Homo sapiens: one gene and its partners. The protein of the gene in region 1 purifies or fractionates together with the protein of each later gene. This does not show direct contact. Each region holds a gene or a part of one and is shown on either strand. Other genes may lie near its edges. The genes, in order: UHMK1, GPBP1L1 and INF2.

Region 1 (3,651 bases):
CCCCTCCCCCCAAAAAAAGACCCAAAAACCATTTCGAATAAGATAGTTTTTTATTATACTTTAAATAATTACTCTTGACAACGGTCTGGGGACAGATACAGTTTTTCTGATATCTGAATAGATCCGAAAACAATAGATATTTTGAAAATACAAATGTGTACAGTCGTGTCATTTAACAGTAGGGATCTGTTGTGAGAAATATGTCATTAGGTGATTTTGCCATGCTGACATCATATAGTACTTACATAAATGTAAATGATACAGACTTCTGCCCACACCTAGGCTATATTGCACAGTCTATTGCTCTTAGGCTACAACCTATATAGCGTGTTACTGTACCAAATACTATAGACAGTTGTAATACAATGGTAAGTATTGTGTCTAAACATAGAAAAGATACAGTAAAAATACAGTATAAAAGATTAAAAATGGTATACCTTATAGGGCACTTTACCATGAATAGAGCTTGCAGGACTGGAGTTGCTCTGGGTAATTCAGTGAGTGAGTGGTGAGTGAATGTGAGGGCCTAGGACATTACTGTACACTATAAGACTAAGGGTAAACACTGTATACTTTGCCTACACTAAATTTATTTTAAAATTTTTTCTCCTTTTTTTGAGACAGAGTCACACTCCATCACCCAAGCTGGAGTGCAGTGGCACAATCTTGGCTCACTGCAACCTCTGCCTCCCAGATTCAAGCGATTCTTGTGCCTCAGCCTCTTGAGTAGCTGGAATTACAGGTGCATGCCACCATGCCCGGCTAATTTTTGTATTTTTAGTAGAGACGGGGTTTCACCATGTTGGCTAGGTTGGTCTCGAACTCCTGACCTCAAGTGATCTGTCTGCCTCAGCCTCCCAAAGTGCTGGGATTACAGGTGTGTGCCACCGCTTCTGGCCAAAATTTTTTTTCTTCTATAATAAATTAGCTTAACTGTAACTTTTTTACTTTATAAACTTTAATTTTTCTTTATCTTATTTACTTTTAAAATTTTTTGTTAAAAACTGAGACACAAGCACACCTTAGCCTAGACCTACACAGGGTCAGGATCATCAATATCATTGTCTTCCACTTCCACATATTGTCTTACTGGAATGTCTGCAGGGGCAGTAACATGCATAGAGCTGTCATCTCCTATGTTAACAATGCCTTCTTTTGGAATACCTCACAAAGGACCTGCCTGAGACTATTTTACAGTCAACTTTTTGGGGGAGGGCGATGTACTTTAAAGTAGGAATAAAAAAATATATAGTTATAAATACATAAGCCAGTAACACAGCTATGTATTGTCATTATCAAGTACAGTAGTTTTGTTTACATCTATGTCCTACCGCAACACCTGCATTACCTGCATTACCACAAGCATGTGAGTGATGTGTTGCGATAGGACATTATGATAGCTACGATGTCGCTAGGCGATAGGAATTTTTCAGCTCAGTATTATTTTATGAGATCGCTGTCATATATGTGGTCCATTGTTGACCAAAACGTCATTGTGCAGTATATGACTGTATTATTAAATAGTAGGTTTTTCAGATTTCTAGACTATGGACTGGAAGTGAATAAAATAATTAGTATGCTAGAAAAGTATGGATCCCTTGTCTGAGTTAGAGTAGTATAGTTTCCTTTGAATATTGGCCCTATAAACCTTTAAGTTAGTTTTATTAACTCTTTACTTTGAAATAGTTACAGACTCACAGGACTTTGCAAAAATGTTACAGAGAGGTCCCTACCATTTACCCAGTTTCCCCCAGTGGTAACTTTTTACATAACTGTAGTATATACAGTATCAAAACCAGTAAATTGAAATAGGTATAATCCACATGATTTATTCCTATTTCACCAGTTTTACGCATACTTACTTGTGTGTGTTTTTCAAATTAGTTTTAAATAGCTGTTAGTATCTGATTGATATGAGATATTATAAATTGCATTTTACATTGAAGAGATGGGAATGAAAAATTATAAAATGGATTCTAGCCTGGAAGTTAAATTTTCATCTAAGTTCTAGTATTGACTTTCTTATTTTTATTTTTTTTAAATAATAGCCCCCCCCCCCCCACCATTTTACATAGAATACTAAATTTGGAAACTATAGAAAGTCATCATGAGGAAAATAAAAATTATAAACCCACATTCTAGTGTTAGCACTTTGGTATATTTCCTTCCACTATTTTTCTGCATATTGCATTATATATGCATGCAAGTCGCTGAACCTTTTTTGTTGCTGTTGTTGAATAAAGCACAGACACTAAAAACACTAATTAAACAAATGTGTAGCTTAATCTGTAGGAACATTGTACCCATCTTGTAACTACCATTCACACCAAGAAATAAAACTTTTCCTGTCACCCTGGAAGTCCTGTATGTGTCTCATCCCAATCTCATACATTTTTGTTTCCTTGAGTGTCCTATATATTACTGCATGTGTTTCTGTTGAAAGTTTGATGACTCAGTAATTGCCTTTTCATTAAAAGTCGCTTGGTCTTCCAGCCTGGCCAAGGTGGTGAAACCCCGTCTCTACTAAAAATACAAAAAAAGTAGCCGGGCCTGGTGGCACGTGCCTATAATCCTAGCTACTCAGGAGGCTGAGGCAGAGAATTGCTTGAACCTGGGAGGTGGAGGTTGCAGTGAGCTAAGATCGTGCCACTGCAATTCAGCCTGGGCTACAGAGGGAGACTCTGTCTCAAGAAAAAAAAAAGAGTCACTTGGTCTTCTTGTCTAGATGCCCAGAGGATTTTAACTTTTTCTTCCATGTATAGTAATTTTATCAAAATATATTTTGATTTTGATTGTTCTGGGTCAATATTCTCAGAAATACGGTATGTCTCTTAAATTACAGTTTTTAAATATTTTTTCTGTTCTTTTTGGTTTTCACTTTCATGTCCTCCTCGTCTACATACGTTTGATTTTCTTTGCCTTATATTCAATGTTGCCATTTTTTCCTTTCTTTTTTTTTTTTGAGACGGAGTTTTTGCTCGTTGCCCAGGTTGGAGTACAGTGGCATGATCTCGGCTCACTGCAACCTCTGTCCCCTGGGTTCAAGCAATTCTCCCACATCAGCCTCCCAAGTAGCTAGGATTACAGGCTACTGCCACCATGCCTGGCTAATTTCTATATTTTTAGTAGAGACAGGGTTTCACCATATTGGCCAGGCTGGTCTTGAACTCCTGATCTCGTGATCCGCCTGCCTTGGCCTCCGAAAGTGCTGGGATTACAGGCGTGAGCCACAACGCCCAGCTGCCATTTTATCTTGATTCTATATTATCTCTTTTTCCTTTCTTTTTTTAAGAGACGAGGTCCCACCATGTGCCAGGCTGGTCTTGAACTCAAGTGACCTTCCAGCCTCAGTTTCCCAAAATGCTGGGATTACAGGCATAAGCCACCACCCCCAACCCATTCTTTCTTTTTTTTTTTCTTTTTTTTTGTGATACGGAGTCTCACTCTGTCGCCCAGGCTGAAGTGCAGTGGCGTGATCTCGGCTCACTGCAAGCTCCGCCTCCCGGGTTCACGCCATTCTCCTACCTCAGCCTCCCGAGTAGCTGGGACTACAGGCACCCGCTACCACACCCAGCTAATTTTGTGTATTTTTAGTAGAGACAGGGTTTCACCATGTTAGTCAGGATGGTCTCGATCTCCTGAACTCGTGAT
Region 2 (3,651 bases), about 120 Mb from region 1:
TTAAGTGCTTTGAGAAATTGCACAGTGAAGAACCTTGTTGAACTTTTTTCACCCCGGCACCTCCCAAACTCATTGAACTATTGAACTAGAGCCCTGTTTTTGGGAAGTCACTATTAATGTCCAATGGCTCTTCTGTATCCCATCTACCATTTTCCTTGAAGTGCCTAACCTCCGAAAGAGGTTGCATACTTCCCAAACATGTTAAGACAGGTAAGCCCTGGAAACTTATGTTCTCATGTAACATTTCACTCTTTGCTTTATGATTTTATAAGCTGAGCTTCTGTTTGTGTGCTTGTTCTGACTGATTTGTTCTTTCACCCTGTGTAGCCTAATGCATGGAAAGCTAACAGGATGGAGCACAAGTCAGGATCCCTTTCCTCTAGCCGGGAGTCTGCTTTTACCAGTCCAATCTCTGTTACCAAACCAGTGGTACTGGCTAGTGGTGCAGCTCTGAGTTCTCCCAAAGAGGTGAGTGAGGATGAAGCAGGACAGTCTTTTCTGAAATTGCCATTTCCCGTTCACTTAGATAACAAGTGTAATATGTATAGCTGTGACACTTGTTTTGTAGCTATATTTAGCTGAGAATAGTTTCTTTATTGATGTTTTCTGTTAGCATCCAAAAGTGGGCAGTGGCTAAATGGGATAGATGCTCTGTGGTGGACCAAGGTCATCCTATGTTAGACTGGCATTCTGCTGATGTCTGTAGAAAGATCAAAGAGGTGCCATGTAAGCCAGCTGCTCTTAACTATATAAACCCTGCAAAACTGAAGTTTGAACTGCTTAAATAAAAGGATTGTTTGGTTTAAGACAGAGTGATAAATAGGCTACCAGATTCTTGAAGTCAGCACTTAGTAGAAGAGAACCCCAGTTCTTGCTCTTTGCTGTCAGGAGCAACCTGTTTGTGGTATTTGCCCAGAGTCCCTCCAGCACCACCCCTCCAATTGAGATCAGCTCCTCTCGTCTGACCAAGTTGACCCGCCGAACCACCGACAGGAAGAGTGAGTTCCTGAAAACTCTGAAGGATGACCGGAATGGAGACTTCTCAGAGAATAGAGACTGTGACAAGCTGGAAGATGTAAGAGCATCCGCCTTTTCTGGGGGTAGCCTAGGAATTTTCCTTTGATACATACGTGATTTCTTCTTCTTAAAGGATAAAGATGTGGCAAGATTTTTAAATGTACAGAGATACTGTCTGTAGGTGTAACTGCCTTCTAGACCACATAGTAAAGTGAGTTTAATCCTTTTTTCAGCAAAAATGTTAAATTCGGGTTTATTTTAGTAATCACTCACCTATTGAAGTACATCTTGGTTGCTTCCAAGTGTTGGCAACTATGAATAAAACTGCAGTAAACATCCATGTGCAGGTTTTTGTGCTGGCATAAGTTCAACTCCTTTGGGTAAATACCAAGGAGCGCAATTGCTGGATCATATGGTAAGAGCATGTTTAGCTTGTCAGGAAACCACCAAACTGTCTTCCAAAGTGGTTGTGCCATTTTGCATTCCCACCAGCAATAAATGAGAATTTCTGTTGCTACACCTCCTCACCAGTATTCGATATTATCAGTGTTCTGGATTTTGGCCCTCCTGATAGGTGTGTAGTTTTAATTTGCACTTCCATGATGACATATCATGTGGAGCATCCATCTATGTATCTTCTTTGTTGATGTGTTTGTTCAGGTCCCTTACCCATTTTTTAATGAGGTTGTCTGTTTTCTTATTGCTAAGTTTTAAGAGTTCTTAGAGTTCTTTGTATATCTTAGTTAATAGTCCTTTATTAGATGTGTCTTTGACTACAGTTTCTCCAAGTCTGTGATTTGACTCTTCATTCTTTCTTATTTATTTATTTTGAGACAGAGTCTGGCTCTTATCACCCAGACTGGAGTGCAGTGGCACGATCTGGGCTCATTGCAACCTCCGCTTCCCGGGTTCAAGCGATTCTCCTGCCTCAGCTTCCTGAGTAGCTGGGATTACAGGCACCCGCCACCACGCCCAGCTAATTTTTGTATTCTTAGTAGAGATGGAGTTTCGTCATGTTGGCCAGGCTGGTCTTGAACTCCTGGCCTCAAGTGTTCTGCCTGTCTCAGCCTCCCAAAGTGCTAGGATTAAAGGCATAAGCCACCACATGTGGCCATATTTATTTATTTGTATTACTTTATTTTTTGAGATGGAGTTTCACTCTGTTGCCCAGGCTGGAGTGCAATGGAGCAATCTCAGCTTACTGCAACCACCGCCTTCCAGGTTCAAGCAGTTCTCCTGCCTCAGCCTCCCAAGTAGCTGGGATTACAGGCATGTGCCACCACATGACACACGTTATTTAGCTTCTTAGCTCTGGCCAGAGGACCAGGAAACTACAGTGCAGAACAAGAGGCAGAGGAAGGCCAACCTGCTTCCTTGAAGACCAAGAGCTCAGACCATAACTCTGGAACACAGCCTTGTGGTTCTGATAAGGAATTAGACCTGTGAGGATGAAAGAGTATACTATTTTCTGGAATTTTTTTTGTATGTAGTAGAGACAAGGTTTCACCATGTTGGTCAGGCTGGTCTCGGATTCCAGACCTCAGGTAATCCACCCACCTCAGCCTCCCAAAATGCTGGGATTACAGGCATGAGCTGCCATGCCCAGCCGGCCATATTTGTTTTTGAGACAGTGTCTCACTCTGTCGCCCAGGCTGAATGCAGTGGCATTAATGATCACAGTTCACTGCAGCCTCGACCTCCCCTCCTCAAGCTATGCCTCAGCCTCAGCCTCCCGAGTAGCTGGGACTATAGGCTTGTGCCACCATGCCTGGCTAATATTTTGTTTGGTACAGAGATAGCTTCTTGCTATGTTGCTCAGGCTGGTGTTAAACTCCTAGACTCAAGCAGTCCTCCCACCTTTGGCCTCCGAAAGTGCTAGGATTACAGGTGTGAGCAACTACACTGTCTTTTAATTCTCTTGACAGAGTGTTTTGCAAAGCAGAAATTTTTTTTATTTTAATGAAATCCAGCCTAATTAATTGTAGGCCAGTCACGGTGGCTCAAACCTATAATCCCAACACTTTGGTTGGCTGAGGTGGGCGGATCACCTGAGGTCAGGAGTTTGAGACCAGCCTGGCCAACCTGGCGAAACCCCGTTCCTACTAAAAACAGAAAAATTAGCCGGGCATGGTAGCATGCACCCATAGTCACAGCTACATGGGAGGCTGAGGCATGAGAATCACTTGAACATGGGAGGCGGGGGTTGCAGTGAGCCGAGATCGCGCCACTGCACTCCAGCCTGAGCAACAGAGTGAGACTTGATCTCCAAAAATAAGTAAGTAAATAAACAAATAAATAAATAAATAAATGTCATACCCAAGGTAATCTAAGTTTTCTTTTATGTTATCCTTATAGGAGTTTTATAGTTTTGTGTTTTACATTTAGGTCTGTGACCCATTTTGACTTTATTTTTGTGACGGCTGTAAGGTCTTTGTTTAGATTGATTTTTTTTTTTTTAGTGTGGCTGTCCAATTGTTCCCTCACCATTTGTTGAAAAGACTATCTTTTCTCCATTGTATTTCCTTTGTCAAAGATCAGTTGTCTATTTGTGGGCTCTCTGTTCTGTCCCATTGGACTATTTGTGTCATCTTCTGCCAGTACCACACTTTTTCCCCCCACACCTCTTATGAGCAC
Region 3 (3,651 bases), on another chromosome or scaffold:
AGATGTTGCCAGATGCCACCTGGGGACACAACTGCCCCCAGATGAGAGCTGCAAGGTTCAGGGAATGAGGGGAAGGCCTGAGCTTGACGAGAATTCAGCCTCTTAGCCCCTCACCAAGCCCTGAGGCCTCTGAAGCCCACCTGATGGGGACTGGGCAGCTGGGGCCCAGGACAGTAAGGCCGGCTGTGGGCCGCACTGGTCTTTGGAGCCCCGTCCTTCTGGGTCCTGTGGCCCTGGCTTTGCCCCCAGGGCCCAGCCCGGCCCCCAGGCTGCCCGCTCTAGGCGCCACCTCCCTTTCCAACCCCTGGGTCCTTGCTGCTCCCTGGAGTCTCACCCCAAAGCTGGCACCATGGCCCAGGTCACAGCAGGGTCTGACCAGGGCAGGGAGGACCGTTCCAGGCCCAGCCTCTGGACCTCAGGGCCACAGCCTGCCCTGGAGGGCTGCCCTCCGCCCTGCAGCCCCCAGCCCACCTTGTGGAACAGGGAGGCAAAGACCTCCTGGTGGCTGCTCATGTCGACCCCGCCAGAGACTCGCAGCAGCTCCTCCTCGTCCTCGGCCTTAGCCTCCTCGAAAGCCTCCAGCTGGATCAGCAGGTCGGCATCCTCCAGGTCTCTGTGCAGGAGGGGCCAGGTGGGCTAAGCCTGCTGCTGCCACCACCAACACGCAGGCGGGGCAGCCTGGGTCAGCGCCAGTGTACCAGCCCCGCTCAGCCCACCTGGGACTCTGAGCCAGGCCATAGCCAGCTGTGGCTGACATGTGACCCACATAGCCAGGGATAGCGACCTAAGAGTGGCAGCTCCCAGGTCAGTGCCTTGCGCCCTGCCAGGCTGCCCCCGGGTCACCAGGCACCCGCACGCCCCTGGGGAAGGGGAAGGGCGAGTATGCCCACTCCCATCGAGTAACGTGCACCAAGGCCTGGGGAGGTGGCACACAATGGAACCGGGCCGTGACCTTGGGGGAGGGAAGGCCCTCCCCTGGGCGCTGCGTGACTACAGTGAAGACCACACCTGAGGTGGGTCCACAGGGCTGCATGGATACAGGAGGGGCGGGGCTCTGGCCTGAGCAGGAGGAAACTTAGTGTTCACTGGGCCTAGGACTTGCCAGTCATCTCAGTCTGGTCAATGAGCACAGCCCTCCGCAGGCAGGGCCGGCCCCCTTCAGCCCACACTGGTGGGGCACAGGCACCCATGTGGGCAAACTTTGCTGAGGCCATTTCTGTTTTTTTTTTTTGAGATGGAGTCTCGCTCTGTCACCCATGCTGGAGTGCAGTGGTACGATCTCAGCTCACTACAACTTCTACCTCCTGGGATCCAATGATTGTCCTGCCTCAGCCTCCTGAGTAGTTGGGATTGCAGGCACATGCCACCACGGCCAGCTAATTTTTGTACTTTTAGTAGAGATGGGGTTTCACCATGTTGGCCAAGCTGGTCTCGAACTCCTGACCTCAGGTGATCTGCCCATCTTGGCCTCCCAAAGTGCTGGAATTACAGGCGTGAGCCACCGCGCCTGGCCCCTGAGGCCATTTCAACACCAGGCATTCTAGCCCTGGGCTCCTCCAAGCTGATTTCCCTGGGTGTAAGGACACCCCCCTGAGTACAGTCCTGACTGAGGCCTGGATAGAGCTTCTCAGCTATGTGGGTTCCCAGCAGGGCTGCAAGATTTAGCAAATGAAACTACAGAGTACCTGTTCAATTTGAATTTCAGACAAACAATGAATAACTTTTGGCATAAGTATATCCCATGCAACATCTGGGATATACTTACACCAAAATATCGTCTGTTGTGTATCTGAAACCTGAATGAACTGCATGTCCCATACAGTACCTGGCAACCCTAGTTTCTTTTTTAAAAAATTTTTATTTTAGACTCGGGGGTACATGTGCGTGTTTGCCACATGGTACACTGTGTAACGTAGGCGATTTGCCTTCTAGGGCAGTGGTCCCCAGCCTTTTTGGCACCAGGGACTGGTTTTGTGGAAGACAATTTTTCCATAGACTGGGGTGACGGGAATGGTTTAGGGATAAAACTGTTCCACCCCCGATCATCAGGCATTAGATTGTCATGAGGAGCGCGCAGCCTGGATCCCTTGCGCGCGTGCGTGCGCTGGAGAATCTAATGCAGTGCTGATCTGACATGAGGTGCAGCTCAGGCAGGAATGCCCGCCCACCGCTCACTTCCTGCTGCGTGGCCCGGTTCCAATAGGCCAGGTACCGGTCCGCAGCCTGGCGGTTGGGGACCCTTGTTCTAGTGGGCCTGACACCAAGTAGCGACGAACACTGTACCCTGTAGGTAGTTTTTCAACTCTCGCCCTGGAGCCCGTGTCCCTGTCTCCATCTTGCGTCCACGTGAACCACCCTGTAGTTCCCTCTTATTGGCATTTCATTTTCTGTTTCTGGGTTGGTTCACTTAGGATCACGGCCTCCAGCTCCATCCACGGTGTGCAAAGGATATGAGCTCATTCTGTCCTTTCTATGGCTGCTGCAACCCTAGTTTCTGTGGGCAGCTGCCAGGGACAGTGAGCTGGATTCTAGCCTGAGACCTGGCTTCTGGCTGGACCCCTGGGGTTACTCCGAGGGAGCCACCTCCCTGCCATCTGGAGGTGCTGCTTAGGTGAGGTGGCTGGGAGCCAAAGGGCAGGTGGGCCTGGCCTTGGGAGCAGGAGGGGGAGCCGGCAGGACCGCTACAGTGGGGACTCACCGCAGGCGAGCCAGGACGTCCAGCAGCTGCAGCCCTGGGAAGGGACGGACAGGGTCAGAGGGTTCGGAGGCCACTCCCCGCCTTCCCCATTTCACTTCTGCCACCCAGAGCACCTGACCCTGCCCTGCTGCACTCATGGGACACCAGAGACCTGAGGCTCTGGAGGGGAGACATCATGCTGGACACACAGTGATGCTTACTCAGGGCTCACTGCCAGAACTGGCAGGGCTAGAACGAGGTCTCAGGCCCCCTGTCCGGCTCCACTGCCTGGCCAGTCTCACAAATGAGAACGGTCCAGGGTTGACCCCCAGGCGTTCTGAGGCCTGTGTCCATTGAAGGGGCAGGTGGTGGCAGGCCCGAGATGGCGCCTTCCTCTGGGGCCCTGGGTCGGGGGCAGCTTTTGTGGCGCTCCCACCTCCCCAGGTGGATGCAGCATGGGATGCACTGGCCAAGAGGCGGGCAGGAGCGGGCATGCGGCCCAGGGCAGGTGCTTACCGATAAACTCGTTCCGCAGCTGGGTGCGCGCGCGCAGGTCCTCGGGGCCCAAGATGACGGCGTTGATCACGCTAAGCAGGGTGACCACGTAGGGCACGTTGTCGCTGCCGGAGAGCTCGTTCATGACAATGCTGAAGCGGTACTGCTGGCTGCACACCGTCTGTGGGGAGGGCGGGGTCAGGGCACACCCAGGCAGGGAGCCCCATGTGCCCAGGCCCAGGCCCTGCCGCCCACCTTGTAGTGGTCCAGGGCGTCCAGGGTCAGCACGTGGCCCTCGGGAGAGTAGATGCACAGGGCAGCCAGTAGCTCAAACACCTGCTTCTTCACCATCACGTTGGATGTGTCCAGGGCTGCCAGGGTGGAGTGGGCAGGCTCAGCAGGGCCAATGCACCCCTTCCCATGCCTGTGCAGCTGGGCTCAGGGCTGGGGCTCTGGGCCTGGCAGGCAGACGCCAGGGG

The links.
Region 2: the proteins of UHMK1 (region 1) and GPBP1L1 purify together in Homo sapiens (affinity purification with mass spectrometry; one large-scale study listed by BioGRID and IntAct). This does not show direct contact.
Region 3: the proteins of UHMK1 (region 1) and INF2 purify together in Homo sapiens (affinity purification with mass spectrometry; one large-scale study listed by BioGRID and IntAct). This does not show direct contact.

The regions. Positions count from the first base shown.
Region 1 is NC_000001.11:162,504,176-162,507,826, forward strand, and holds part of UHMK1 (serine/threonine-protein kinase Kist), read left to right. Parts: intron 1-3,651. UniProt on the Homo sapiens protein: Upon serum stimulation, phosphorylates CDKN1B/p27Kip1, thus controlling CDKN1B subcellular location and cell cycle progression in G1 phase. May be involved in trafficking and/or processing of RNA.
Region 2 is NC_000001.11:45,630,913-45,634,563, reverse strand, and holds part of GPBP1L1 (vasculin-like protein 1), read left to right. Parts: intron 1-327; coding exon 328-468; intron 469-888; coding exon of another isoform or gene 889-916; coding exon 917-1,075; intron 1,076-3,651. UniProt on the Homo sapiens protein: Possible transcription factor.
Region 3 is NC_000014.9:104,702,997-104,706,647, reverse strand, and holds part of INF2 (inverted formin-2), read right to left. Parts: intron 3,544-3,651; coding exon 3,428-3,543; intron 3,354-3,427; coding exon 3,194-3,353; intron 2,733-3,193; coding exon 2,699-2,732; coding exon of another isoform or gene 2,695-2,698; exon of another isoform or gene 1,839-2,694; intron 614-1,838; coding exon 472-613; intron 1-471.